Regions from separate parts of the Homo sapiens genome. Here regions 2, 3, 4, 5, 6 and 7 are each linked to region 1. Evidence: fine-mapped expression QTL. A gene starts in region 1. Each other region holds a variant in brackets. All regions are shown on one strand. Distances are from middle to middle.

Region 1 (4,064 bases):
CCAGCACTTTGGGAGGCCGAGGCGGGCGGATCACTTGAGGCCAGGAGTTCGAGACCCGCCTGGCCAACATGGCAAAACCCCCGTCTCTACTAAAAATACAAAAATTAGCTAGGCGTGGTGGCGGGTGCCTGTAATCCCAGCTACTCAAGGAGGCTGAAGCAGGAGAATCACTTGAACCCAGGAGGCAGAGGTTGCAGTGAGTTGAAATTGCACCACTGCACTCCAGCCTGGGTGACAGGGCAAGATTTTGTCTCAAATAATAATAATAAAAATAAAAATAAAGAACTGACAGTGACCCTGACTGCCAAGTCCTTCACAAAGCCTCTAGGGTAGTCACATCACCAGTCTCATTTCACAGATGAAGACACTGAGGTGAAACAACCTGCCGGCCAGCGGCCAGGCAGGGCTGCACCACTGGGTGTGCGCTCAAGCCCAACTGAGGGCTGCACATTGTAGTGACATTCTTTCACCCCTGCAGAGACCAGGGCACCAAGCACCACCATCAGACACAAGCTGGCTTTCAAAGCCAGAGACCTTGCTCCAAACCCACCTGTCCACCTGGGCGACTGCAGCTCAGCAGCACTTTTTGGAAAGCACCTACCTGCCTGTGCACCCTCGGAGAGATGTGCCTCAATGCAGGGCCCACAGCCAGCCCCAGCTCCAAGCGCAGGCCAGAACTCCCTCCTCCCAAGACACCCTGCCCCATCTGGGGCTCTCTTTGGGTCCCAAGCTCCTGCAGGCAGACAGGACATTTCTGCAGCATGGCCTTAGGCAGCTGTGCAGGCCCTCAGCTGTGAATGGGTATGCTGATAGCGCACCACCAGGTCACAGAGACATGCCACGCTGGAAGCACTAAGTGAATGATGATAAACCGCGAGACCTGGCGGGAACTCCTGCAGGATCTCCCACGCACCAGTGAGGCTGTCAACTCTCCAGCTCTTCGGAAACTCCAGCATTTCATGCGCAGAGACCCATCCCCATGCGGCTACCCCAGGCCCAGTATGCGCCGGCAGGGCTTCTCACATGTCCTCCAGGAAAGCGCCTGGGACCACCAACGGCCACCAGGGCCACTGGATCCATGCGGCTTGTGCCTGGTGATGTAGATATGACAGTGAGCGCCCGCCGCCATGCAGAATCGGTCCTGGAGACAACCCGGGAACCGACTCCAGGAAAGAGCGGGTCTCAGAAGACCATGCACAGCAACATAAGCTTTTTATAAAGTACCTAACCAAACCCTACAGTGTTGAGGCCCAGGCACAGCTACACAAATGATGAAACCACAAGCGGAAAAAAAGAGGGGAGATTTCCCCAAATAGGGTTGGTGGGGTGGTGCCTGGGGAAGCAAGGGCGACGTCATGGGGGGGCCTGTACACCCCGGGCAGGAGGCGGGCCGGTCACACCGCGGCACGCATGCTCTCCTGGCCCGACTTTTGGGAAAACCGGAAGCAGGGCAAGGCCGTCCCACGAGGCCTGCCACTCCCCTTTCTGGACCTACCCAAGCCCGGTGCTCAGGGCCCTCGCCGCCTGCTCACTGGGACACCTTACCTGGCTCCACTGCCCTTCTGCGTCCTGCGCGAGCCCGGGACACCCCGGGAGGCCGGGCGGCGGGGGACCTCCCCGAGCAGCGTCAGAGCCGCCCGGAGCCGCAGCAGCCGCACCACGCGCATCTGCCAGCCTCCGGGAAAGAGCGACAAGCTGGGCCCCGCCCCAGCGGCCAGCCCCGCCCCGCCCCCAGCGGCCAGCCCCGCCCCCGAGCGCGGCCTCCGCCCCCAGCGGCGCTCATCCCAAGGCTGGGCGGTCTAAGCCTGCACGGGGCTGCGGCAGCAGGACCACTGACTGTCCTGCCGGCCTCCCCCTGGTTTCCCTGCCTTCGTGGTCCAGCGCCCCTTCACGCTGGGCGGGGACCCAGATCCAAACCCAGTCCCACTGACCTCTGCAGCACAGGGCTGGCTGTCAGGATGCCCCACAGGTCACACGACCAGGCCAGTGAACTCCTGCCCAGGGCTTGCACACAGCTCTCTCCCAGAGCCTCTGAGGGCAGGGGCACCTAGCAGGTCCTTCCTAAGTACACGCTCTGCTGCTCTGGAGAAGGGACCACACAGGCTCAGATGGCCCCCTACCTCATCCCCTACAAACAGCAGCACTTCCAGGACGCAGAAACCGGCAGAAGCACCTGCTGTCCAGCCCACAGCAGCCCCTCAGAGGTGGTGCCTCTGGACAAAGGTCACAGGAAGTCCTGCGAAATCATCCCTGCCAACCAGCCTCTCACTCCCAAGGAGACCAGAGACCAGGCACAGCTGGAGCCTCCTTCCTGCGCTCAGTCCCCAGCGTGACTGCTGACCCTGACCAGGGTTTAACCCCAGTGTCTTCACTGGGGAGCATGGCCAAGGGGCAAAACCTCTAGATCAGCACTTGGCGGTAGGCCCTGAGCCACAACAGGCCACACCGCTCACCTCTGGCAGCACCGCAGCCTTGGTCTTCCCCGGTAAAACCCTGACACCAGGACCGTGGGAAGCAGATGAATTCACATGCATTCCGCACTTTCACTGTGACCGTTGGGGGGAATGCAGTGGACACAGGCAGGAAAGGAGTCCGGGCTGCCACCGCACGCCCTCAGCGACCCTCCCCTGCCACCAACTGACTCAGTGTCCATGTCATCTAGCTGCTGGAAGCCATGGGCAGAGGCCGAGGGCTGCAATTGCTCGCTCTTAGGGCCCAGGCAGACCTGGTAGGTGTCCCATCATTTCAGAATGAGCAGCTCAGCAGCTGAAGGTACACACACACCAGGACACAGCAGCTGACTCTCCAGGTGGGCCACCTCCTCCCAGGGGCTGCGGAACAGTGATGCATATTTTTTCAGGTAACCCTTTCTACAAACCAGAAGAGGGCCTTGGCCCAGGCCCACCATTCCTTCAACGGAATCCTGAGGTCAATGTGTTTTCCAGTTCAGGTTTCTAAGGGTTTTTGATTTTTTGTTTTTTACTTTTTGTAGAGATGGGGTCTCCCTATGTTGCCCCGGCTGGTCTCGAACTCCTGGGCTCAAGTACCTTGGCCTCCCAAAGTGCTGGGATTTCAGGTGTGAGCCGATGCCCAGTTGGTTCCTCAGGTTTTGTAAGAGGGAGTGTGGCAGGACAAAAACCCTAAGATTTCTCAATAGATGCAGAAAAAGCAGCAGACAAATCCAGCACCATTTCATGATAAACAGAATGGAAAACCCACTCAAGAACAGAATAGAAAGAAACTTAACCTGAAAAGCAGCATCTACAAAACCCCGCAGCTAACCTCATATGCCAGAAGAAAGACTGGACGCTCCTGCTGAAATGAAGAATAAGACGAGGATGTCCACTCTCACCACTGCCTCTCAACATGGTACCAGAGGCTCTAACTGAGCAAACAGGCAAGCAGATGAAATAAGACACCCAGATCAGAAAGAAAGAAGTAAATTATGTCTATTTGCAGGTGGCATAATCTTGTATATAGAAAATCCCAAAGAATCCACAAAAATTGGCCGAGCACCGTAGCTCATGCCTGTAATCCAAGCACTTTGGGAGGTCAAAGCAAGTGGATCACTTGAGCCAAGGAGTTCAAGACCAGCCTGGGCAACATAGTGAGACCCTATCTCTATGGAAAATAAAATTTAAAAAAGAATCCACAAAAACTAGTAGAGCTAATAGATGAATTCAGCACAATTGTAGGGTACAAGATCAATATGCAAACATCAGTTGTATTTCTAACCAGTAGCCATACGCAAACTGAAAATGAAATTAAGAAAATAATTTATTATAGCATGAAAAAATAAAATACTGCACAATAAATTTAACAAAGGAAGTATCAAGCTTATACTCTGAAAACTGTAAAACATTGCCCAAAGAAATTAAAGACAGCCTAAATAAATGAGCAGCCATCCCATGTTCACGGACTGGATGATTTCATATGGTTAAGACAGCATTGGCCAGGTGCAGTGGCTCACGCCTGTAATCCCAGCACTTTGGGAGGCCGAGACGGGCGGATCACGAGGTCAGATCGAGACCATCCTGGCTAAAACGTCTCTACTAAAAAAATTA
Region 2 (4,064 bases), 280 kb after region 1:
TGCCCGGGACCCTGGTTTCCCTGAGGACCAACGTGAATGGGGGCCCCACTGGAAAGATGCTTGGGGCTGCAGAGCGGATGGAATGCAGGCCCAGGTTGCTGGGTGGTGCCCTCAGCTCCTGGCAGGGTTGACGGGTGGTGGCCGCTGGGCTCTGCCAGCCGATGGTCCGCTGGCACCTGATCCTGTCTTCCAGCTTCACTTCCGGGCCTGCTCGTAGTTGTCAGTGAACCAAGCACAGGTCTCCTTCACCGCTGCAGAGGCAGGCAGGTGAGGGCCATGGACAGGGAGGGTCGGGGCCGCATGGGAGGAAGTGGGGGGAGGAGGCCCAGGGACAGGGAAGTCACCCCTCAGAGCTTTGGTGTCCCACCTCCAGGGCAGTACAGGCTCTGAGGGGGCACCTCACCTCTGCCCTGGTAGCGAGCATGAGGGAGGGGCTGGGGCAGGCCTCCACCAAGTGGAGGGCTGTGGGGTCAGGGCTCACCCTGCTTGAAGGGTGTGAACCGGAAGTCGGGCAGGTAGGTCCTCAGCTTGCTGTTACTGGCTGTCTTCTTAAACTGCCCATCCGACTTGGTTGTATCAAACTGGAGGCTTTGTCAAGGCCACAGCGAGAAGAGCACCTCCACCCCAGCCCCCGCAGCTTGCCCTTGAACCTCTGCCATTCCCAGGGGAGCCACAGCAGAGCTCCTCCGCCTGCCAGGGTGAGCATCCTCCCTCCGCAGTGTCCCACCCACGCTGGCCCTACACCGGGTGGCCACTGAGCCCGCCCAAGGGGCCCCCGCCCAACCCCCAGCACTGGAGCCAGAGGATACGGTGACTTCCCCATGGAAGTCCATGGCCTCCACCACCGCCTCGGCTGCCTCCTTGATGGAGACCTCATCTTCCTCGCCCACTGTGGGGAGCCACCGGGTCAGGCCTCCCCTTGGTGCCACCCGACGGCCCATGAATATTCCTGCTCCCACCCCTCAGCCAGCCTCCCAGGACAACCTTGGATCCTGTCCTACCATGGAGGAAGGGGGCTGAGGGCTGAGGTACCCACCGGAGAGGATGATGGGCTCCACTTCATTGTACTCCCGCAGGACCCAGATAAAGAGCTGGGCCAGGTCCTAGAGGTCAGACAGGCAGGGTCAGAGACCATGGGTATAGCCAACCCTCTCCCAAACGCCCCTGCTGGGGAGTCCATACTGCTGTCCTTGTTCAGTGGGGGCTCAGCCTGGGGAACAGGGGTCCCTCCTTTCTCCCTTGGAGCTCAGAGCTACGCCAGTGACTCCTGGAGACAGGAGCCTATGGGGCCTCCACGAGGACCAGAGATGGCTCCTCTTGGAGCTCAGCCCAGATTCTCTGCTGGTAGGAGCCTCCCTCCTGCACCACCTCCCCGACAGCCCAGCAGGGGCCAGCCCAGGGCTCAATAGGGCAGGTTCTCTGGGGAGAGCTGTGCCTTCCTTTACGCACCAGCGAGTATATGAACTGCCTCCGCGGATTCCCTGTACCCCACACCGTCAGGGCCGAGCCGCTGCCTGCAGATTTGGGGAAGGAGCAGGTGTCAGAGGCACTGGGTCACCTCCTCCCGAGCTGAGCCCGGGCACCCCAT[C/T]GGACGGACGCACTCACTCTTGGCCAGGTGCACCTTGTGGATGAGGCCAGGCAGCACGTGGCCATCCTCGATGTTGAAGTTGTCGTGGGGCCCGAAGACGTTGGTGGGGATGACAGCGGTGAAGGTGCAGCCGTACTGCTGGAAGTAGGCCCTGCGGAGGCACAGCGTCTCCTGCCCTCGTCCTGGGCCCGCGATCCCACCCCAGGCTGCCGCTGGCCTCTTACTGAGGCTGGCACGAAGACCCGACCAGCCGGCCCCACCCGCCCCTGGGGGCCCTCTCCCCGACTCCTGGCTGGGCCTCAGCAGGATGGGCGCGAGGACCTGTTCTGCACGTCGATCATCCTCTTGGCATACGAGTACCCAAAATTGCTGTTGTGGGGAGGCCCATTGTGGATCTGCGGGCGTGGGAGAGGCAGAGGCCGCTACTTCCTGGCCCTGCCCACCGGCTCCCCGGCCCCACCCACAGCCAGGCCCTGCCCCTCACCATGGTCTCATCTATCGGGTAGGTCGTCTTGTCAGGGAAGATACAGGTGGACAGGCAGGACACCACCTTGCGGGCGCCCACCTCAAAGGCCGAGTGCAGGACGTTGTCGTTCATGTGCACGTTTTTCCTCTGCAGGGGTGAGGCGGGGACAGTTCAGGCTCCCCAGGCCAGATCCCAGCCCTTACCTGCTCCTCCAGACGCAGAAGTGGAGACACACCCTGGCCCTTCAGCCCTGGGAGGACCCAAGCCTGCCCATCCTAACCGTTTCCGGACAAGGCAGTGGGCTTACAGACACCATTGCTCTCCAGCCCCACCAAGGCTGGAGGAGGGGCTGGCTCTGCCTTCCACTATGAGGAGAACCACACCCCCAGCTCAGGGCTGGGCCCCACCCAGGAGGCTGCTGAGGTCAGGGCATAGGACCCCACTGGAGGCTGGGAAGGAGCCCAGTCTGGCCCTGGGCTGGGCTGGGGCTCCCACTACACGGGGAACAGGGCGGTCTACTTCCCCACCCTGGAGGAGCTCCCACCTGGCTCTACTTCCCAGGATCAATGGAGCCTGCGCTTGCCGGGTCCACCCCGCGGGCCCCACTTCCCGTGCATGAACTAGACACGGCATGGCTGGAGCCCTGGGACTGGTCTTGGGAGAAGGGAGAGGTGGTGGCCAGGCAGCCTGCTGGGAAGGCCGAGACACCGACAAAGAGGGCTCTGGGGTGACAGGGCTCCTGGGCAGAATCTCCTCTGAGCCTCTGCTCACGCTAGTGCCTCCTACGCTTAGCAAAGCCAGCTAAGGCAAGGCTGCTGCCCAGTGACTGGTGGGGCCAACCCTCCGGAACACAGCTAGCCACGGCAGGGCCCTTACACCACGCCCCCTTCCCCCAGACACAGGCAGCAGATGCACAGAGCGCGGTTCACACCCCTGCACCCCAGAGTGTGTGGTGGGCCCGGCTAAGGGGAGCTGGGCCAGCACAGTCCTGGGAGCCAGAGGCTCCAGAGGCCCTGGGGACTCAGGGGGCAGGAACCAGCTCCCAGTCCCACGTGGCCGCTGGCTCTTTTCAGCCTCCCAATGCTGCAAGTCAGCTCCACAGCTTTGCCTACTGGGCCAAGTGCCTCCAGGCCCCCTGCATGGCCCTCTGTCCACAGCACCAAGTGTGAGTGACTGGGGGTCCCTCAGGGGCTGCCCCCACCAGGCTGTGCCAAGCCCTGATCCTCAGGGACTTCCTGGGGTGGGAATGTGGGCCTGTGAGAGTGGGAAGCCCGCCAGGAAGTTCCCAGAACCTGGGATCCTGGTTTCCAGTGCTTGCTGGGGCCACCCTCACTTACCCAGAAGTCCAAATTGTATTTGATATTCCGGAACAGGCCCCCCACCATTGCAGCAAGATGGATGACGTGTGTGGGTTGGACCTTCTCAAACAGGGCGCGGGTCTGTGCTGTATCCCTGTAGGAAGCCAGGCTGTCAGGAGGCTCTGGAGGGAACCAGCACCCCAGGGTTGGGTGCCAAGTGCAGGAACTGGGTGGGACTATGGCAGGAGGGACAGTCAAAAGGGAGGGTGGCCCCAGGGCCTGGCTGATATGAGGGTGCAGGCTTCCAGGAAGAGATGGGAGGGTGTTTGTTTTTCCAGGAACACAGCCAAGCACACCCAGGCCAGGCCAGCCACCTGGCAGGAAGGACCCAGAAACACAGCTACTGTTAGACTCAGCAACATGCCCAGCCTGGAACTCTTAGTTCTAGGGTGGGGGGTAGGATGGAGAGGAAGGGCTGATCTGGGGATGGGCTCACTCACGTGAGATCGGCGTCTTTAGAGGAGACAAACACCCAGTCCTCTCCAGGAAGTCCAGCTCCATCTGCTACCACCTTCTGGATGGCTTTGCCTACCAGCCCAGAGCCCCCTGTCACTAGAATCCGCATGGATCCCTGGGGTTCACCCATGTCAGTTGCACCTGTAATGTCAAACAGTGGGAGGCTGAGGTCATCACGCTCTCATCCTTTGGAGCC
Region 3 (4,064 bases), 39 kb before region 1:
CAGGGGTCTGCAAGGGCAGAGAGAGGTGGGGACTGTCGATAGCAGCCTGCTCTCATCTGCCCTGGAACATCCCTGCCCCACCCCCACCTCCACAGGAGCTTCCGTCTTATCTGCGCCCTCCACATTCTTGAGAGGTGCAGCTGGGACTCAGCCGCTTCTCCTCTGCTGCCACAGCGGACTGCCTGCAGACTGAGAAGTCCTCCTCAGTTGCTGTGCTGGCCTCGTTGGCCCCCCTCCTCCTGCTGCCCCTCCTGGCTGAGTCCTCCTGCCTCCTATGCAGGCCAAGCTCAGTTGCCAGCTTTCTCATGTCCCAGGGTTTCACCCCTACCCCTTAAGCCTTTTTTCTAAATGGCCACATGGTCTGTCCCTGTGAGCCAGTGGAACCAAATCTAACCAGTGGCTTGACTGCCAGACAAGGGCCATTGATAACGCAGCCTGGATGGGGTTGCTCAGCCTGACCAGCGCCGCCGCCGCCCAGCCCACATGGGACGTGGGTTGCTGCTTCCAGCTCTTGTTCCGGATTTCTTTTCTTTTCTTTTTTTTTTTTTTAAGACAAAGTCTTGCTCTGTCGCCAGGCTGGAGTGCAGTGGCGCCAGCTCACTGCAATCTCCACCTCCTGGATTCAAGTGATTCTTCTGCCTCAGCCTCTCAAGTAGCTGGGACTACAGGTGTGCACCACCACACCCAGCTAATTTTTGTATTTTTATTAGAGATAGGGTTTCACCTAATCTTGATCTCTTGACCTCGTGAACTGCCCACCTCAGCCTCCCAAAGTGCTGGGATTACAGGCGTGAGCCACCGCGACTGGCCTCTTGGTCCGGATTTCTGTCTGAGTGAGGACGCTCCTGTTTGCACATAACAGAAGCCCTTAGAGTTTGGTGTTTGGGGGCAGTTGTTAAGGAGTCTGCGTTGTCTCAGGGAGTCCAAGGTAAAAGGAATGAGCTGGGGCCATGGCTGGGTGTGGTGGCTCACACCTGTAATCCCAGCACTTTAGGAGGCTCAGGTGGGAGGAGGGTTGAGCCCAGGAGTTCAAGACCAGCCTGGGCAACACATTGACACACTGTCTCTACAAAAAATTTTTAAAATAGCCTGGTGTGGTGGTGCTCACCTGGAGGTGCGCCACCTACTTGGGAGGCGGAGGGAGGATCACTTGAGCCCTGAGGCTGCAGTGAGCCATGATGGTACCACTGCACTCCAGCCTGGGTGATAGAGCAAGACCCTGGCTCACAAGAAAGGAAGGAAGGACAGACAGAAGGCAGAGCTGGGCCGTGGGCTCTGTTGGGTGCCACTGTCCCCGGGCCTCCTGCTACATCTGCCTCGCTCCCGTCCTGGCTTGCTGCCAGCTGTCTCCAGCCTCCTTTGCTTTCCCAGCTGTCCCGCAGAGTAAGGCAGTGCCCAGAGCCTGCGTTTCTGTCCCCTCCCCTCCCAGGACTGGGTGGGCCGAGGCTAGAGGTTTAGCCCTGTTTCTAGCCCCGTTTAGCCTCGTTTCTGTTTGTATATTTTTAAAATTCTATTTTTTTAAGAGACAGGATCTCACTATGTTGGCCAGGCTGGTCTTGAACTCCAAGTCTCAAGTGGTCCTCCTGCCTCAGCCTCTGAAAGTGCGGAGATACAGGTGTGAGTCACCACATCCGGCCCCACAGCCCCGTTTCTGGAGTGGCAGTGCAGGATTCTCGTCTACCTCATAACCATGGGGGTTAAGAAGGTGGGGAGGAGAAAAAAACTAAAAAAAACGAGGCGGGAACTGAATGGGCAAAATCAAAGGTGTCTGTGGCACACTGACGTCACCATCACTGTCACTCTGTCGTCACCACGATTGCCAGAGCCACCCTCGACTCACGTTCTCTTACATCTAAAATCGTTCCTGTCTGGCCTCTTTTTCAGCTGTGAAGGCTGCTTTCCTGGCGCAGGCCCCGAGTGGCAGCCGGTCAGCCGAGGTGCAGGCAGCTCAGAGCACGGAGCCTGCCGCAGAGGCAGGCGCTCCCGAGGGAGAGGGCCACAGAGGGGGGCCTCCCCGGGCGTTGGGGTCTCTTGGCCTTTGTGAAAACCAGGAAGCCAGAGAGAGGCCCGGAGGTTCCCCTCGAGGCCCGGTCACTTCTGAGAAAACTGGAGGACAGAGTGGCCTCGAGTCAGACGTCCCTCCGAACGCAGGCCCCGG[C/G]GCAGAGGGCGGGGGCAGCTGGAAGGGGCGGCCTTTCCCGTGCGGCGCCTGTGGCCGCAGCTTCAAGTGCTCCTCGGACGCGGCAAAGCACCGGAGCATCCACTCGGGGGAGAAACCGTACGAGTGCAGCGACTGCGGGAAGGCCTTCATCCACAGCTCGCACGTGGTCCGGCACCAGCGGGCGCACAGCGGGGAGAGGCCCTACGCGTGCGCCGAGTGCGGCAAGGCCTTCGGCCAGAGCTTCAACCTCCTCCGGCACCAGCGCGTGCACACGGGCGAGAAGCCCTACGCGTGCGCCGACTGCGGCAAGGCCTTCGGCCAGAGGTCGGACGCCGCCAAGCACCGCCGCACCCACACCGGGGAGAGGCTGTACGCGTGCGGCGAGTGCGGGAAGCGCTTCCTGCACAGCTCGAACGTGGTCCGGCACCGGCGGACCCACCACGGGGAGAACCCGTACGAGTGCCGGGAGTGCGGCCAGGCCTTCAGCCAGAGCTCCAACCTCCTCCAGCACCAGCGCGTGCACACGGGGGAGCGGCCCTTCGCCTGCCAGGACTGCGGCCGCGCCTTCAGCCGCAGCTCCTTCCTCCGCGAGCACCGCCGCATCCACACCGGGGAGAAGCCCCACCAGTGCGGCCACTGCGGGCGCGCGTTCCGGGCGCTGTCGGGCTTCTTCCGGCACCAGCGACTCCACACGGGCGAGAAGCCGTTCCGCTGCACCGAGTGCGGCCGCGCCTTCCGCCTGAGCTTCCACCTCATCCAGCACCGGCGGGTGCATGGCGCCGAGTGAGCCGGGGCTGCGGCGGAAGAGATGCCGGCGGCCTGGTGGGCGCGAGGCCGAGGCCGGGGGAGGCTCCTGTCCGCCCCGTGCGCGGTGAGGAAGTAACAGCCGGCTGCGCGCCTGGTTCTCGGGTTGCGAAAGCCTCGCCAGGCCTGCATCCGCCTTGGCTTGGGAGCAATCAGGAGAGACAGGGCTCGGGGAAGGCGAGCGCTGCCCGCGGGAGGCGATTCCCAGAGGCGGGGAGGTCTCAGGGGTCTGTCCCGGGCCGGCCGCCCGCCTCTGAGACTCCCCGCCTCCCACGGTCAGCTGCTGCGGGGCAGTGGCCGGTGATTGAATCGGTCATTCCTCCGCAACCAGGCCTCCATCAAAACCCTGCATGAGATGAGGGCCTCGGGCTTCGGGTTGGTGAAGGCGGGGTGGGGGGGCAGTTAGGAAGGGGGCGCCCAGACAGGGCATGGAAGCCTCGCGTCCTCCCCCGTACCTTGCGGGTCGGTGGTTCATCCATGTATTTCAACGCCTTTTCACAGCCGGTTCATATGGTCCCGACTTCTGTGTGCTTAGAAAATTATGGAACTTGGCCGGGTGCGGTGGCTCCCGCCTGTAATCCTAGCACTTTGGGAGGCCGAGGCGGGCGGATCACACGGTCAAGAGATCAAGACCATCCTGGCCAACATGGCAAAACCCCCATCTCGACTAAAAATACAAAAAATTAATTGGGCGTGGTGGCGTGCGCCTGTAATCTCAGCTACTTGGGAGCCTGGGGCAGGAGAATCACTTGAACCTGGGAGGCGGAGGTTGCAGTGAGCGGAGATCTGGGCACTGTACTTTAGCCTGGGCGACAGAGAGACCCATCTCAAAAAAAAAATTGGAACCTGAGAAGGGGGTCGTGGGGTCCCCGGGGCCCACCGTCTGCACTTGGCATCTGAAGTCGGGGTGGTCTTGTGGGACTGACCCCTTACCCTGTGGGTTCTGCACTAGCTCCGGGCAATTGGTGACAGAATCGAGTTAAATTGTAGGACATCGCGTTGGTGTCTGAGAGGGAGTTGGAGAGCTGGTTGGTGTGGAGGGAAAGGCTTACACACATGTGATTTCAGAAGCGTTCTGTGGGTAGAGGAATCGTTTTCTCTT
Region 4 (4,064 bases), 27 kb after region 1:
CGCCATGTCGGGGTCCGTGAGTCTGGGGTGACGTGAGATCCCAGAGGCTGAGTCTGGAAAATTGAGCGGATGTGGCCGCGGTAGCAGAATGGACGAAGGCCTCCAGGCCGAGAGGGAGCTCTGTGTACAAGGGCACGGCAAGTGGCCACCGGTGGCCAGTGTGGAGTACGGCTCCCTCCAAAGCAGGCTCTTCCTGCAGGTATTTTATCCGGGAGGTGGACTCAGGAAGCACAGGTAAGGGAGTAGGGAAGTACACGTGTTGGGGAGCAGGTGAGAGCCGGGGCCCCTGGACTAGTCCTCCTGGAGGCCTCTGGGAGAGCACAGGACACAGTTCCGAGTGGGTTTGCTCTGGTTTTGAGGGGCCATCCTTGCCGCCCCACCTCTGCCAACTGCACTTCCAGCAAGCCCCGGGCATAGGCCAGCACCCCTAAGCACTGAGAAAAGCGCTCAGGCAGGAAGTTGCAGGTGCTGGGGGCGGGGGGGCGTTGGGGTGCATGGGAAAGGCAGGGTGCTGAGAGCGTCAGCCGCACTGCATGTGTGTGCGTGGTGGGGCTGGGGAAGGGCTGGCGCGTGTTGACACGATGGTGCGGGCACCGGGGAGCACCACCCCCACATGATCCCCTGTATGTTGCAGAGAGATGATGGCACCAGTGGGCACACTGCTCGCAGGTCAGGAGGAAACAGGGCTTGGTCAGGCCAGAGACAGTAGGAGCCTAAACCGCAGGCCTGCAGAGGTTGAGGGGAGGTGTCTGATAATTAGTAGGGTGTGGAAATGAGAATGAGCGAGTTGAGGATGGTGCCCAGGCTTCTAGTTTGGGTGGTCCGGTGAGTGGCGCTGTCTTCTGGCCCTAAAGCCCTGTCACGGTAAGGAGAACTGCCTGGAAAACGTACACTTGGGGAAGACAGAAGAGGTTATTACAAACACTCCTTCACTTTACAACTTGGCTATTTTGTGATAAGTTTTAGTGCATTTATTTGAGTTTATTAAAGATGCCATGTTACTGCCTTCTTAACAAATGGACATAGGCAGATAGCTGTTTTCCTGTTGTGGTGAGTAATGGCCAGGAGAGGCAGCCTTCTGTGGAGCAGGCACCGCAGAACCTTTGCATGCAGATGGCATCTCCTCTACAATGGCGCCGGGGTTGCTAGAGCCACAGACGCTGAGCTTATTTTACTCAGAAAGCCACAGAAACAATAACCAAAAAAGGATACTATGAAGGCAGCATAGATCATATGCTTTTTAAAAAGCCCATCGTCAGCATCAGTGACAACACCATTACCGCTCAGTCACCGAGATTAAAAATTAGTCACACGTGGAAAATAGAAACAGGTTTTCAGGGAGAAGAAGGTTTTGATTCCACTGAATAATGCTCCCTCTTTTGCTTGGTAAATAGATGATCCATATTTCCTGATGATGTACATTTTCGAGGGTAGCTATGCCTAGGTGGTCTCAGATTTGGGGAAAAAGCCTTGGCCTCAGTTGACTGGGAAGGGCTCAAAAACTATAAATTGTATCCAAAAATGTCTGACAACAAGGTATTCAGTAATGACATCAGAGACTCCATCCAGACTGAATCTAGATTAGGTCACAAATGATTAACAGTCCTTGGAATTAAGAACTTTTATCTTGGCCGGGTGTGGTGGCTCATGCCTGTAATCCCGGCACTTTGGGAGACGGAGGCAGGCGGATCACTAGAGGCCAGGAGTTTGAGACCAGCCTGGGCAACATGGTGAGACCCTGTCTCTACTAAAAATACAAAAATTAGCCAGGTGTGGTGGCGCGTGCCTATGATCCCAGCTACTCGGGAGGCTGAGGCGGGAGAATCTCTTGAGCCCAGGAGACGGAGGTTGCTATGAGCCAAGATCGCAACACTGCACTCCAGTCTGGACGACAAAGCAAGACTCCGTCTCTTTTTTTTTTTTTTTTTTTTTTTTTTTGAGACGGAGTCTCATTCTGTCACCAGGCTGGAGTGCAGTGGCGCGATCTCGGCTCACTACAATCTCTGCCTCCCGGGTTACATACCACCACACCCAGCTAATTTTTTGTATTTCAGTAGAGACGCAGTTTCACCACGTTGGCCAGGATGGTCTCGATCTCCTGATCTCGTGATCTGCCCGCCTCAGCCTCCCAAAGTGCTGGGATTACAGGCGTGAGCCATGATGCCCGGCCGCAAGACTCCGTCTCAAAATTAAATAAAATATTTTTAAAAAAGAACGTTTTTCTTGTGTGCATCACAATACTTCAGCGAGACACAATC[C/A]TCATCTGAGCCACCACGGGGCTGGCCCTTGCCCCTCTCCTTCCCTTTAAGCCCTGGTCCAGCCCAGCCTTCGGTCTTCTGAGCCTCCATGTACCTCGGCTGGGCCCCGGCCCCTGTCCTCAGCCCGTCCTGCCCGCTTCCCCTCCCTGGCCACTCTGGGCAGAGGCCTTGCTTCCTGTGTCACTGACACCTGGGGACAATCCACAGAGGTACCCCACACTCCCAACACGGCATCTGTCCCGCCTGTGCCCCCCACCCACCAAACCTCTGCTCCCCTCCATCTTCTCTCCTGTTACCGTGGTTGAACACTTCACGCCCCCTATTAAGTGCCAGCCACCCATCAGCCCTCCCCTGGCCCCACAAACAGTACTGCACCTGTCCTCAGAATTCAAATGTGCCCACTCCCTATGGCCGTCTCTGCTCTTCTGACTCACCTTAATCCCCGTTGAAGCACTCTCATTCTTTGGCTGGGTGCAGTGGCTCATGCCTGTAATCTCAACACTTTCATGAGGCTGGCGGATCACTTGAGCCCAGGAGTTCGAGACCAGCCTAGGCAATATGGGGAGACCCTGTCTCTACAAAAAATACAAAAATGAGCCAGGCATGGTTTCTCATGCCTGTAATCCCAGCTGCTTGGGAGGCTGAGGCAGGAGGATTGTTTGAGCCCAGGAGTTCAAGACTGCAGTGAGCTGTGATCACACCACTGCACTCCAGCCTGGGCAACAGAATGAGACAGCCTGTCTCAAAAAGAAAAGGTCTCACTCTCAAAGCCCCCTGAGACCACTTCCAACAGGGTCTCCACCAGCCTCCTCCACTCTTGGCAGCCTGGTCTTGCTGTCAATGGCGCAGGATGGCGCATGTGTTGGTCACTGGCTTCCCTTGGAACTGGTTCCTCCCTGAGCTCCTGGGGGCCACCTGACCCTGTTTCTGTTGCCCTCCTCCTTGGGCCCACTGTCGTGAACTATCCTGGCACTCTGTCCCCAGCAACTGTATAGCAAAGACGTCTACAGTGTGGACCTTGGCCTCCAGCCTGGCCCCTGAGCTGGAGACTCGGCAGCCTTCAGGACCCTTCCCCTGAGCTGTGTGAGAGAAGCTCCAGCCCAGCATCCCAAACCCAAGGCTCTGCCTGCCGAAACCTCCTCCTCCCAAACCGTCCCCGTATGGTGGTCACACCAGCCATCTCTGAGCTGCCAAGGCCAAAACAGTGTCGGAGTCCTCTACACCTCTTCCTCCCACCGCCCCGTGGAACCCACCGGCAACCCTCACACACGTTCCAGTATCACTGCTCTATGGCGGTGGGCTCTGCACCAGGCTGGACCACAGAAGGCCATGGTCGCTTCAGTTGTATAAAACACGCCACAGGTGCATCCAGCTGCTGGGATCAGTGCCAGTAAGTGCCCACTGCAGAAACCCAGTGTGCTGTGCCCGGGGCACCCTCACCAAGGCACTGTCCTAAGAATGAAACTGGCAACCAGAGGAAAGTCCACAGCAGGCCACTCTGCCACATTCCAAGGACAATCATGTGTTCCCCTTCCCCATATCCTTTTCTTTTTATTTGCCAGAAAAGTGCAGTTCTCCAGAAGCCAGCAGGCCAACCATGGGCGTCTCCCTCCCTCCCTCCCTAAGCACACTCAGCACCCAGGAGGGACATGAGCACCCACAGCCTGGGAAGGTCCCTCAGCGGCCGGGAGGGACATAAGCACACACAGCCCGGGAAGGTCCCAGAGCAGGCTGGGTGCTCCTTGCTTACGGAGGCCCCACCAGGGCCTGGCAGGGCACCCAGAAGATGAGGGCTTTAAAGAGCTC
Region 5 (4,064 bases), 20 kb before region 1:
ACAGTCCTAAGGGCCAGGCATGTTGGCTCATACTTTTAATCTCAGAGCTCTGGGAGGCCAAGGCAGGATTGCTTAAAGCCAGGAGTTCAAGAGTAGCTTGGGCAACATACAAAAATTTTCTTAGTGTAAAAATTAGCCAGTTGTGGCCGTTGGCACCTGTGGTCCCAGCTACTCAGGAGGCTGAGGCGGGAGGATTGCTTGAGCCCAGCAAGTTGAGACTATGGTGAGCTAGGATGCTGAGACATCTGGCTGTCCACATGCAAGAGAATGACCCTGGGCCCTTCCCTCAGACCACACACAAAAATTAACTCAGAACCAATGACCTAAATGTAAGAGTAAACCAATAAACCTCTTAGGAGAAAACAGAGAAATCTATCTTCATGGCCTTGGGTTAGGCAAAGCCTTCTCAGCACGCTGACTCATCCAAATCTTAAATGTGTCACAGGACACCAACAAGAAAGAAGAAAGATGTGGCCGGGCGCAGTTGCTCACACCTGTAATCCCAGCACTTTGGGAGGCCGAGGTGGGTGGATCACCCGAGGTCAGGAGTTCAAGACCAGCCTGACCGACATGGTGAAACCCCATCTGTACTAAAATACAAAAATTAGCCAGGTATAGTGGTGTGTGTCTGTAGTCTCAGCTACTCGGGAGGCTGAGGCAGGAGAATCGCTTGAACCCAGGAGGCAGAGGTTGCAGTAAGCCAAGATCACGCCACTGCACTCTAGCCTGGGTGACAGAGCAAGACTCCATCACCAAAAAAAAAAAAAAAAAATAGGGCTGGGAGTAGTGACTCACACCTGTAATCCCAGCACTTTGGGAGGCCGAGACAGGCAGATTGCCTGAGCTCAGGAGTTCAAGACCAGCCTGGGCAACATGGTGAAACCCCGTCTCTACTAAAATACAAAAAAATTAGCCGGGCATGGTGGCGGGTGCCTGTAATCCCAGCTACTCAGGAGGCTGAGGCAGGAGAATTGCTTGAAACCTGGAGGCAGAGATTGCAGTGAGCCGAGATCATGCCATTGCACTCCAGCCTTGGCGACAGAGCAATGCTCTGTCTCCAAAGGAAAAAAAAAAAAAAGAAAGAACAAAGACAACCCAAGAGTGGGCGAAACATCGACGAGCTCTTACAAGTCAATAATAAAACAACAACCCGACTGGAAAATGGACAGAGGACCTGAGCAGTCATTCTCCAGAGACGATACAGAAGTGGGCAACAAGCACCTGCAAAGAGCACCCACGGCCAGACGCTCCTTCACACCCACTGGGCTCTAATCGACACATGGAAAACTGACCCTACAGTGGCGCCTGGACAGAGGAATCGGAGCCCTCACACACTGCTGGTGGGGAGGGGATGGTGCCGCCGCCCTGGAGAAGAGTCTGGCACCTTCTTCTCATTTCCTGACCCCACAATGACAATCACAAACCTCCTTGGCGGCCAGGGTCTCCTCCTCCCACGGCTCCATGTGTCCCACTCTTGTCCACAAGGCATATAGTTTGTATTTTTAAAAATCACAAAGTTGGCCAGGTGCAGTGGCTCATGCCTGTAATCCCAGCACTTTGAGATGCCAAGGCAGGAGGATCACTTGAGGCCAGGAGTTTGACCAGCCTGGCCAACATGGAGAAACCCCGTTTCTACTAAATAAATAAATGAGCCGGGCGTGGTGGC[G/A]CGCACCTGTAACCCCAGCTACTCGGGAGGCTGAGGCAGGAGAATCACTTGAACCCGGGAGGCGGAGGTTGCAGTGAGCTGAGACCGCGCCAGCGCACTCCAGCCTGGCGACAGAGACTCCATCTCAAAAAAAAAAAAAAAAAAATCACAAAATAACAATTGAAGAGGAAAACAAAACTGGCCATGGGAAGGCGCGTCTGAAGCTGCCACATCTGGGTTGGTGTGGGCGGCAGCTACCTAGGTGCTGAGGCAAGAGACTGAGGGCACGAGCTGTTCCAGTATAATAAAATACATAAGAATAGTTATACTATATATAGATCATAGATATGATTATATATGAATATCATTAATCATTAGTTGGTAGCAATTACTCTTTTTTCCAATATTATAATAATCCTCGCTCTACAATCATAGCCTAGGAAAAACCAGGCCATACAGAGATATGAGGGGACATAGTGAGGAGTAACCAGAAGACAAGAGTGCGAGCCTTCTGTTATGCCCAGACAGGGCCACCAGAGGGCTCCTTGGTCTAGCGGTAACGCCAGCGTCTGGGAAGATGCCTATTGCCAGGCCAACCATGGTCTAGCGGTAGCATCAGTGTCAAGGAAAAACACCTGCCACTTAGCAGACCGGGAAAGGGAGTCTCCCTTTCCCCAGGGGAGTTTAGAGAAGACTCTACTCCTCCACCTCTTGTGGAGGGCCTGACATCAGTCAGGCTCGCCCGCAGTTATCCGGAGGCCTAACCGTCTCCCTGTGATGCTGTGCTTCAGTGGTCATGCTCCTAGTCTGCCTTCATGTTCCATCCTGTACACCTGGCTCTGCCTTCTAGATAGCAGTAGAAAATTAGTGAAAGTACTAAAAGTCTCTGATATGCAGAAATAATGGCGTAAACTGTTCTCTCTCTCTCTGCCTCGGCTGCCAAACAGGGAAGGGCCCCGTGTCCAGTGGACATGTGACCCACGTGATCTCACCTATCACTGGAGATGACTCACACTCTTTACCCTGCCCCTTTTGCTTTGTATACAATAAATAACAGCGCAGCCAGACATTCGGGGCCACTACCAGTCTCCGCGTCTTGGTGGTAGTGGTCCCCCGGGCCCAGCTGTCCTTTCTTTTATCTCTTTGTCTTGTGTCTTTATTTCTACAATCTCTCGTCTCCGCACAAGGAGACAACAAGGGTCGTCTCCCACCGACCCTGTGGGGCTGGACCCTACGGGTTGGGACAGGGCCCCGGGAGAAGGCGTCTGAGGGCACGGGTACTCACCTCCTGGACTTGCCATCCCCTTGGGCTTTGTGCTCAGCCCTCGCCCTCCTCAGCTCTGCCCTGGCCTCAGCCACCTGCTCCTTCTTTGCCTGGATCTGCAGGAAAAGGGTCCAGACAGGGCTGCCCCTCCCCATCCCGCACCAGCCCCTGTGCCCACACCCTTCCACACCCTACGTGCCCACCGCAGCTGGCTCCCAGGCCTGTGCCGAGGCTCTGGGGAGGGGGAGGGGTCCCTTGAGGGCTGGGCTGGGGGCTCTCCTGGGAGCTGCTACCTTCGTCTGGAGATTCTGCATCGACTTCTCGAACGTACTGGGGGTTGCTCGCTGATGGTTGCAGAGAATGGCCACGACTCGGTTGGCTCGGTTGTAGGATAAGATCTTAGCTGCTATGCTGTCCTCGGCTGAGAGGCACGGGCTGTCAGAGGCAGCACCCACGGGGCCGGCCACCCTCCCTGTCTGCCCTGAGCCGGCCTTAACGCGCCACACAGCGCAGCCCCTTCCACTCACACAGGCACCCACTGGGATGGGGAGAGTGAGGGCCAAGGGTCAGTGACCCTCCAAGGTGGCCTCGAGAGCAGGGCCCAGCGTCTTTAACCACAGCAACAAGGCTTCACGTGGGGCCACAGCACAGGTAGCACCACCCGGGCCTTCCCAGGCCCCATGGCAAGGAGGAGGCCCAGCCGCCTGGACGGGCGAGTCTGCCTGTCACAAGTCCCCAGCACCCGGCTTCCCCTGGCGAGTCTGTGGGTCCCTGCCTGTCACAAGTCCCCAGCACCCGGCTTCCCCTGGCGAGTCTGTGGGTCCCTGCCTGTCACAAGTCCCCAGCACCCGGCTTCCCCTGGCGAGTCTGTGGGTCCCTGCCTGTCACAAGTCCCCAGCACCTGGCTTCCCCTGGCGAGTCTGTGGGTCCCTGCCTGTCACAAGTCCCCAGCACCCGGCTTCCCCTGGCGACATCCCCTCAAGGTACCACGTTGTCTCCATTTTCCAGTCAAGAATGAGGTTCAGAGAACGTAAGCACTGGCCCCAAGGCACCTACTGGAGCGGCCACTCCTTCACGCCCATCCTGCATGGCCCACCCAGCTCTGGAAGCACGTCCACAGTGGGCCCAGCACCTTCATTTCCTCTCCCAGGCCCG
Region 6 (4,064 bases), 46 kb before region 1:
GGTTGCCCCTCCACACCTGTGGGTGTTTCTCGTTAGGTGGAACGAGAGACTTGGAAAAGAAAAAGACACAAAGTATAGAGAAAGTAATAAGGGGACCCAGGGAACCAGCGTTCAGCATATGGAGGATCCTGCCAGCCTCTGAGTTCCCTTAGTATTTATTGATCATTCGTGGGTGTTTCTCCGAGAGGGGGATGTGTCAGGGTCACAAGACAATAGTGGGGAGAGGGTCAGCAGACAAACACGTGAACAAAGGTCTTTGCATCATAGACAAGGTAAAGAATCAAGTGCTGTGCTTTTAGATATGCATACACATAAACATCTCAATGCTTTACAAAGCAGTATTGCTGCCCGCATGTCCCACCTCCAGCCCTAAGGCGGTTTTTCCCTATCTCAGTAGATGGAACGTACAATCGGGTTTTATACCGAGACATTCCATTGCCCAGGGACGGGCAGGAGACAGATGCCTTCCTCTTGTCTCAACTGCAAGAGGCATTCCTTCCTCTTTTACTAATCCTCCTCAGCACAGACCCTTTACGGGTGTCAGGCTGGGGGACGGTCAGGTCTTTCCCTTCCCACGAGGCCATATTTCAGACTGTCACATGGGGAGAAACCCTGGACAATACCTGGTTTTCCTAGGCAGAGGACCCGGCGGCCTTCCGCAGTATTTGTGTCCCTGGGTACTTGAGGTTAGGGAGTGGTGATGACTCTTAAGGAGCATGCTGCCTTCAAGCATCTGTTTAACAAAGCACATCCTGCACAGCCCTTAATCCATTTCACCCTGAGTTGACACAGCACATGTTTCAGAGAGCACGGGGTTGGGGGTAAGGTCATAGATTAACAGAATCTCAAGGCAGAAGAATTTTTCTTAGTACAGAACAAAATGGTGTCTCCTATGTCTACTTCTTTCTACACAGACACAGTAACAATCTGATCTCTCTTGCTTTTCCCCACAGGTCTCACTCTGTCACCCAAGCTGGAGTGCAATGGCGTGATCTCAGCTCACTGCAATCTCCACCTCCCGGGCTCAAGTGATTCTCCTGCCTCAGCCTCCCGAGTACCTGGGATTACAGGCGAACACCACCACTCCCGGCTAATTTTTGTAGTTTTAGTAGAGATGGAATTTCACCGTGTTGGCCAGGCTGGTCTCAAACCCCTGACCTCAGGTGATCCACCCGCCTCGGCCTCCCAACGTGCTGGGATGACAGGAGTGAGCCACTGCGCCAGGCCCAGCTGTCTTTGTTTTTCAGGGGTGCCTTTGGTAATTTCTTCATCGTACTTTTTTTTTTCAGGGTAGCAGGTAAGAGACTCAGTGGATAGGCTCATGGAAACAGTCCTTGAAGGGGTGGTATTCTAAGACTCAGCTACTTTTTTTTTTTTTTTTTTTTTTTTTTTTTTTTTGAGACGGAGTCTCACTGTGGAGTGCAGTGGCGAAATCTTACTGCAACCTCCGCCTCCTGGATTCAAGCAATTCTCCTGCCCCAGCCTCCCGAGTAGCTGGGACTAAGGCAAGCACCAACATGCCTGGCTAATTTTTTGTAATTTTTTTTTTGGTGGAGATGGGGTTTCACTATGTTGGCCAGGCTGGTCTCGAACTCCTGACCTCGAGTGATCCTCCTGTCTTGGCCTCCCAGAGTGCTGGGATTACAGGCGTGAGCCACCTCTCCGGCCTGGACTCGGCTACTTTTGGATCAAGAAATCCAGAATTTTCTAGACTGTGAACTTGCCCTTTATCATGGACATTTACCACCTGCAACTGCCCAGAGGTTCTCTGTCTCACCCTACACCGTGAGGACCCCCTTAGCAAACAGAATTCCAGGGCGCGGGCTCTTCGCAGGATCTGAGCTATTCGCGGGCGTCCTGAGTTGCTTGGATTCACTCCCCCACCCCCATGTCCCTGGAGTCCTGCCTTGTGTTTTCGATTCTGTTTCTCAGGGGCCCCAGCGTGTGGCCTCCCATTGTGGGAGAGCAGGAGGGAAGCGGTGAGGGGTGATTTCGGAGGAGGCAGAGCCCCGGGTGTCCGTGGGAAGCTCCAAAGCCGGGCCGCGGGACGGCTACCCTGGGCTGTGACGCAGTCCAGGATCTTCGCCAAGGCACCTGCTGGAGGCCCCTCCTGGGTCCCACGACCCCGACTGCGCCTGCCGGCTGCCAGCGAGGAGGCGGGGCCAAGGCGAGGGCGGGGCCGAGGCAGGAGGGGCGGGGTCGGCCTGATGGGCGGGGCTTCCGTGTGGGCGGGGCTGCTGGCCCTGCGGTCTGAGCCAGCGGGGAGAGGCCCGGGCGGAGGAGGCTGCGGACTCCTAGAGGTTCAGTGCCGGAAGTTGGGCCTGGAAAGGGGGCACCGCCTTCCCGGTTCTGGTGGCGGGGAGTGAGGGGACGGGCGAAAGCGGCACAGGGAACAGCATGACACGGGCCTGAGGCAGGGCACATTTGGAAAGGGGCGAGGAGAGGGCAGTGGCTTCTGGCACGGCAGCAGTGGGCATACAGAGGCAGTCGGGACCCGTCTGGAAGAGCCTCCGCCCGG[G/A]GTAAGGAGCCGGGACTGTGTCTAGGAGGCAGTGGGGAGCTCCGGAGAGCGAAGCGCCTCCTGCGCAGACTCGCGTGCTTGGAGTACCGGAGCCTGCAGGGCAAGAGAGGGTCTTCAGAAGACCCACGACGTTCCACTGGGATGCAGAGGGAAACGGTTACTTGTACTTCTACATCATCTCTTTTAGATGTGTGTGTGTGTGGTGTGTGTTGTTGTTGTTGTTTTTGTTTTGCGACAGAATCTCTGTCACCCAGGCTGGAGTGCAGTGCCAATCTCGGCTCACTGCAGCCTCCGCCTCCCGAGCTCAAGTGGTCCCCCCGCCTCAGCCTCCCGAGTAGCTGGTACCACAGGCGCCGGCCACCACGCCCGGCTAATTTTTAAAAAAAATTTTTAGTCGACACGGTTCTAACTATGTTGCTCAGGCTGGTCTGAAACTCCTGGACTCAAACAATCCTCCTGCCTTGGCCTCCCAAAGTGCTGGGATTACATTCATGAGCCTCTCGCCCACCCAGTCTAAGTGTTTTAATTTTTATCTTTTACAACAGCTTCTAATTTGTTACAAATAAACGTGCAGCATGTGGTGGGAGTGTTCAGGTGTTTACTGGTGCAGTGCGCAATGAACGCGGTTCCAGGCACGAGATGTGGAGGCCCAGAGGCAGATGCCGGGTGGCGGCGGCGCGGGACTGTCGGAGGCGCGGGCAGGGACCTGGGCTCCCAAGGCTGTGGCCCTCCCGCCCCAGTCCAGGGTCCAGTTCCAGGGGCGCGTCTGGCCCTCTGTTGCTGTCTTCTTAGGGTTCTCTCATGGGAATCGGTTCTTCAGCCTTTCTTTTCTCCCCAGAGAGGGTCTGTCTACTCGTTGTAAGAGGGAACAAGTCCACATTGCAGCTGTACACTTTGCACCCATGATGAAAAGCGTCACTTTTGCAGCATTCCAGCTGGAGATGCGTGACCTTCGGTCTGCGGCAGGCGGAAGGGCGAGAGACTTGGACAGGAGGTGCATCTTGCCCGGGGAAGGCTGAACGAATGAGAGCTCGGTCCCTGGTGAGAAAGAGCCCAGAGCCCGCGAGAGGCGGGCAGCAAGGGCTTCTCTGCAGCGGAGACGCGAGGGCGGCGTCCTGCAGGGAGGCGGGGGGCAGCGCCTGGGGCGCTCCAAGCTCTCGGCCCCAAGGAAGCCCACGCTCGGGACCCGCGTGCTGCCACAGCCCCGGGGGCCTGGAGGGTCCCGTGAGCCGAGCGGGACCCGGGACAAGCGCGGGACGCCGCGGGGAACGGACGGGAACGCGCGTGGCCGCCCCACAGCGGGCCTTCGACACCTCCTGACACGTCCTGCGGGTGCCCGGTCCTCAGTTGGCTCGAGCCGGATCCCGGCGCGCCAACGGCTCGACCTTGCCCCCCACGAGGCAGGGCTTCCTGCCCGGCAGGAAGGACTCGGCCGGCGCCTGCGGGCAACCGATGAGCTGAAGGCGCCGCGGCTGGGCCGTCCCGCTCTCCCGCCGCCGAGCGCGCTGTCCTCCCGCTGCCCAGAGCGTCGCCGGAAGTGCCGAGG
Region 7 (4,064 bases), 340 kb after region 1:
TGGAGTTTTAACCTAGACTGTGGGGCCCTGGCTAAGGGCAGTGGCCTATCTCTCTAAACAACTATAGGGGGTTTCCAAAGCCTGGCCCCCGTGTCTAAGGGCCCCGGCAGCAACGGCCCTGTTAGCACAAGAAGCAGATAAACTAACTCTTGGACAAAACCTGAATATAAAGGCCCCCCATGCTGTGGTAACTTTGATGAATCCCAAAGGACATCATTGGCTAACAAATGCTAGATTAACCAAGTACCAAAGCTTGCTGTGTGAAAATCCCCACATAACCACTGCAGTTTGCAACACCCTAAACCCCAGCACCTTGCTCCCGGTATCGGGGAGCCCAGTTGAACATAACTGTGTAGAGGTGTTGGACTCAGTTTATTCTAGCAGGCGCAACCTCCGAGACCATCCTTGAACATCAGTAGACTGTGAGCAGTACGTGGATAGCAGCAGCTTCGCCAACCCCTGCAAAGTGACTCTGAGGAAGACGACAAGCCCTGCTCCAGTCACGCCCAGAAGCTGACTGGTCCATGCACGGCCGAAGCATGAGGAAACTCATCGCAGGACTCGTTTTCCTTAAAATTTGGACTTGTACAGTAAGGACTTCAACTCACCCTCCTCAGACTGAGGACTGTTCCTAGTGTATACATCAAGTCACTGAGGGAGGACAAAATGTTGCTACAGTCCCATTATTTTACGGTTATTATAAGTGTACTGGAACTCTAAAAAGAACTTGTTTGTATAATGTTATTCTATACAAGGTATGTGCCCAGGAAATGACCAACCTGATGTGTGTTATGACCCATCTGAGCCTCCCATGACCACAGTTTTTCAAATAAGATTAAGAATTAAAGACTGGTGGGGGCTCATAAACAATATGAGTAAAGTGTTAGCCAAAAAAAACAAACAAAAAGAGGTGCCCAAACAAGTCACCTTGAAGTGTGATGCCTGTGCTGTCATTAATACTAATAAGTTAGGAATAGGATGTGGTTCTCTTCATTAGGAAAGAGGCTGTATGGCAGAAAATAAGTACATTTATCATGAGTTAGGACTGTGTGGAAATGAATGTAGTTACTGGTCTTGTGTCATTTAGGCTACTTGGATAAAAAATGAAAAAAATTCTGTCCACCTTCAGAAAAGGAAAAGTGGCCCTTCCTATACCAGTGGTCAGTGTAACCCCTTAGAACTAGTAATAACCAACCCCCTTAATCCTCGCTGGAAAAAAAGGAAATGTGTAACCCTAGAATTTTTTTTTTTTTTTGAGATGGAGTCTCGGTCTGTCACCCAGGCTGGAGTGCAGTGGAGCGATCTCGGCTCACTGCGAGCTCTGCCTCCCGGGTTCACGCCATTCTCCTGCCTCAGCCTCCTGAGTAGCTGGGACTACAGGTGCCCGCCACCACACCCGGCTAATTTTTTGTATTTTTAGTAGAGATGGGGTTTCACCGTGTTAGCCAGGATGGTCTCGATCTCCTGACCTCGTGATCCGCCCGCCTCTGCCTCCCAAAGTGCTGGGATTACAGGCGTGAGCTACCGTGCCCGGCCATAACCCTAGAAATTCATGGGGCTGGACTGGATCTTCAAGTAAATATTGTGGTTTGAGGAGAAGTTTATAAACGCTCTCCTGAGCCAGTATTTCAAACCTTCTATGATGAACTGAATGTGCCAGCACCAGAAATTCCAGGAAAAATAAGAAATTTGTTTGCAATTAGCTGACCATGTAGCCCAGTCTCTCAATGTCACTTCATGCTATGTGTGTGGAGGAACTATAATAAAAGACCAATGGCCACGGGAAGCCCAAGAATTAGTACCTACAGACCCAGTTCCTGACGAATTCCTGGCTCAGAAAAATCACCCTGATAACTTCCGGGTCCTAAAAGCCTCAATCACTAGACAATACTGTATAGCAAGAGTAAGGGGCCGGGCGCGGTGGCTCACGCCTGTAATCCCAGCACTTTGGGAGGCCGAGGCGGGCGGATCACAAGGTCAGGAGATGGAGACCATCCTGGCTAACACGGTGAAACCCCGTCTCTACTAAAAATATAAAAAATTAGCCAGGCGTGGTGGCGGGCGCCTGTAGTCCCAGCTGCTCGGGAGGCTGAGGCAGGAGAATGGCGTGAACCCGGGAGGCAGAGCTTG[T/C]AGTGAGCTGAGATCACGCCACTGCACTCCAGCCTGGGTGACAGAGCAAGACTCCGTCTCAAAAAAAAAAAAAAAAAAAAAAGAGTAAGGAAGGACTTCACCCTTCCTGTAGGACGACTCAGCTGCCTTAGGCAAAAACTGTATAATGGTACTACAAAAACAGCCACCTAGTGGAGTTCAAACCATACTAAGAAAAATCCATTTAGTAAATTCCCAAAGTTGCAAACCGTGTGGACCCATCCGGAGTCCCACCGAGACTGGACAGCCCCCACTGGATTATACTGAATGTGTGGGCATAGGCCTTACACCAAATTACCCGACCAGTGGGCAGGCAGTTGTGTGATTGGCACTATTAAACCATCTTTCTTCCTACTGCCTATAAAGACAGGTGAACTCCTGGGCTTCCCTATGTTTCCCGCGAAAAGAGAAGCATAGCTATAAAAAAATAAGAAAGATAATAAATGGCCCCCTGAGAGAATGATGGAATATTATAGGCCTGCTACTTGGGCACAAGATGGCTTGTGGGGATACCGGACCCCCATCTACATGCTCAACCAAATCATACGGTTACAAGCTGTCTTAGAAATAATCACTAATAGGACCGGCAGAGCCTTGACTATTCTGGCCCGGCAAGAAACTCAGATGAGAAATGCTATCTATCAAAATAAATTGACTCTCGACTACTTGCTAGCAGCTGAAGGAGAAGTCTGTGGGAAATTGAACCTTACCAATTGCTGCCTGCACATACATGATCGGGGCAAGTAGTTGAAGATACAGTTAAAGACATGACGAAACTGGCACATGTGCCTGTACAAGCGTGGCACGGATTTGATCCTGAGGCCATGTTTGAAAATGGTTCCCAGCGCTAAGAGGATTTAAAACTCTTATAATAAAAATTACAGTAGTAATAAGAACCTGCTTACTGATCCGTTGTTTACTACCTGTACTCCTTCAAATGGTAAAAGGTTTCATCACTACTCTAGTTCACCAGAATGCTTCAGCACAGCCGAGCGCGGTGGCTCACGCCTGTAATCCCAGCTTTTTGGGAGGCTGAGGCAGGCGGATCATGAGGTCAGGAGATCGAGACCATCCTGGCTAACGCGGTGAAACCCCGTCTCTACTAAAAATACAAAAAAAAAAAATTAGCTGGGCATGGTGGCGGGCGCCTGTAGTCCCAGGTACTCAGGAGGCTGAGGCAGGAGAATGGCGTGAACCCGGGAGGCGGAGCTTGCAGTGAGCCGAGATCGCGCCCCTGCACTCCAGCCTGGGCGACAGAGCAAGACTCCGTCTCAAAAAAAAAAAAAAAAAAAAAAAAAAAAAGAATGCTTCAGCACAAGTGTACTTCATGAATCACTATCGCTCTGTCATGCAGGAAGACATAGCTAGTGAGGAAGAAGGTGAGAACTCCCACTAATAAAATGAGTGAGAGTCTCAAAGAGGGGGAATAAGGGAGGAGACTGCCCCTCATATCCTCTTATGCCCAATTTCTGCCTCCAAAGAAAGAAGAAGTAAAAGCTAAAAGGCAGAAATGAAATCTACAGGTAGACAGCCCGGCGCCGCACCCTGGGCCTGGTAGTTAAAGACTGACCCCTGACCTAACCGGTTGTGTTACCTATAGATTCCAGACATTGTAAAAATCCCTGTCCCGTTCTGTTCCGTTCTGATTACCAGTGCATGCAGCCCCCAGTCACGTACCCCCTGCTTGCTCAATTGATCACGACCCTCTCACGCGGACCCCCTTAGAGTTGTGAGCTCTTAAAAGGGACAGGAATTGCTCACTCAGGGAGCTCGGCTCTTGAGACAGGAGTCTTGCCAATGCTCTCGGCCAAATAAACTCCTTCCTTCTTTGACTTGGTGTCTGAGAGTTTTGTCTGCATCTTGTCCTGCTACAAGCTCACGGCAACCTCTGCCTCCTGGGTTCAAGCAATTCTTCT

Evidence for each region.
Region 2: its variant is fine-mapped to the expression of TOP1MT in whole blood (INTERVAL, PIP above 0.99).
Region 3: its variant is fine-mapped to the expression of TOP1MT in cerebellum (GTEx, PIP above 0.99). The same link has a PIP of 0.9 or more in cerebellar hemisphere.
Region 4: its variant is fine-mapped to the expression of TOP1MT in whole blood (GTEx, PIP above 0.99). The same link has a PIP of 0.9 or more in unexposed skin.
Region 5: its variant is fine-mapped to the expression of TOP1MT in whole blood (TOPMed, PIP above 0.99). The same link has a PIP of 0.9 or more in lung, sun-exposed skin and unexposed skin.
Region 6: its variant is fine-mapped to the expression of TOP1MT in subcutaneous fat (GTEx, PIP above 0.99). The same link has a PIP of 0.9 or more in lung and sun-exposed skin.
Region 7: its variant is fine-mapped to the expression of TOP1MT in whole blood (INTERVAL, PIP above 0.99).

Annotation. Positions count from the first base shown.
Region 1 is chr8:143,333,195-143,337,258 of GRCh38, forward strand. It overlaps TOP1MT (DNA topoisomerase I mitochondrial), which reads right to left and starts at 1,686. Exons shown (of 14, transcript NM_052963.3): 1 at 1,546-1,686. The coding sequence starts at 1,667. RefSeq lists enhancers at 910-1,594, 1,134-1,183 and a silencer at 1,384-1,843.
Region 2 is chr8:143,612,715-143,616,778 of GRCh38, forward strand. It overlaps GFUS (GDP-L-fucose synthase), which reads right to left. Exons shown (of 11, transcript NM_003313.4): 2 at 3,853-4,009; 3 at 3,392-3,506; 4 at 2,073-2,201; 5 at 1,910-1,983; 6 at 1,606-1,739; 7 at 1,450-1,514; 8 at 1,037-1,103; 9 at 810-889; 10 at 482-581; 11 at 1-251. The coding sequence starts at 3,998. The coding sequence ends at 196. Among named protein-coding and RNA genes, the nearest start is that of GFUS, 2.8 kb to the right of the region's middle. The variant C/T (reference allele first, on the strand shown) is at 1,589.
Region 3 is chr8:143,293,856-143,297,919 of GRCh38, forward strand. ZNF696 (zinc finger protein 696) reads left to right here. Exons shown (of 3, transcript NM_030895.3): 3 at 1,885-4,064. The coding sequence ends at 2,945. Among named protein-coding and RNA genes, the nearest start is that of ZNF696, 4.5 kb to the left of the region's middle. The variant C/G (reference allele first, on the strand shown) is at 2,159.
Region 4 is chr8:143,360,468-143,364,531 of GRCh38, forward strand. It overlaps a transcript of RHPN1 not described here. Among named protein-coding and RNA genes, the nearest start is that of RHPN1-AS1, 6.1 kb to the right of the region's middle. The variant C/A (reference allele first, on the strand shown) is at 2,259.
Region 5 is chr8:143,312,797-143,316,860 of GRCh38, forward strand. TOP1MT (DNA topoisomerase I mitochondrial) reads right to left here. Exons shown (of 14, transcript NM_052963.3): 11 at 3,203-3,330; 12 at 2,931-3,025. Among named protein-coding and RNA genes, the nearest start is that of TOP1MT, 20 kb to the right of the region's middle. The variant G/A (reference allele first, on the strand shown) is at 1,667.
Region 6 is chr8:143,287,300-143,291,363 of GRCh38, forward strand. No RefSeq gene overlaps it. Among named protein-coding and RNA genes, the nearest start is that of ZNF696, 2.1 kb to the right of the region's middle. RefSeq lists an enhancer at 3,607-4,064 and a silencer at 3,653-4,064. The variant G/A (reference allele first, on the strand shown) is at 2,519.
Region 7 is chr8:143,676,367-143,680,430 of GRCh38, forward strand. No RefSeq gene overlaps it. Among named protein-coding and RNA genes, the nearest start is that of ZNF707, 6.1 kb to the right of the region's middle. The variant T/C (reference allele first, on the strand shown) is at 2,131.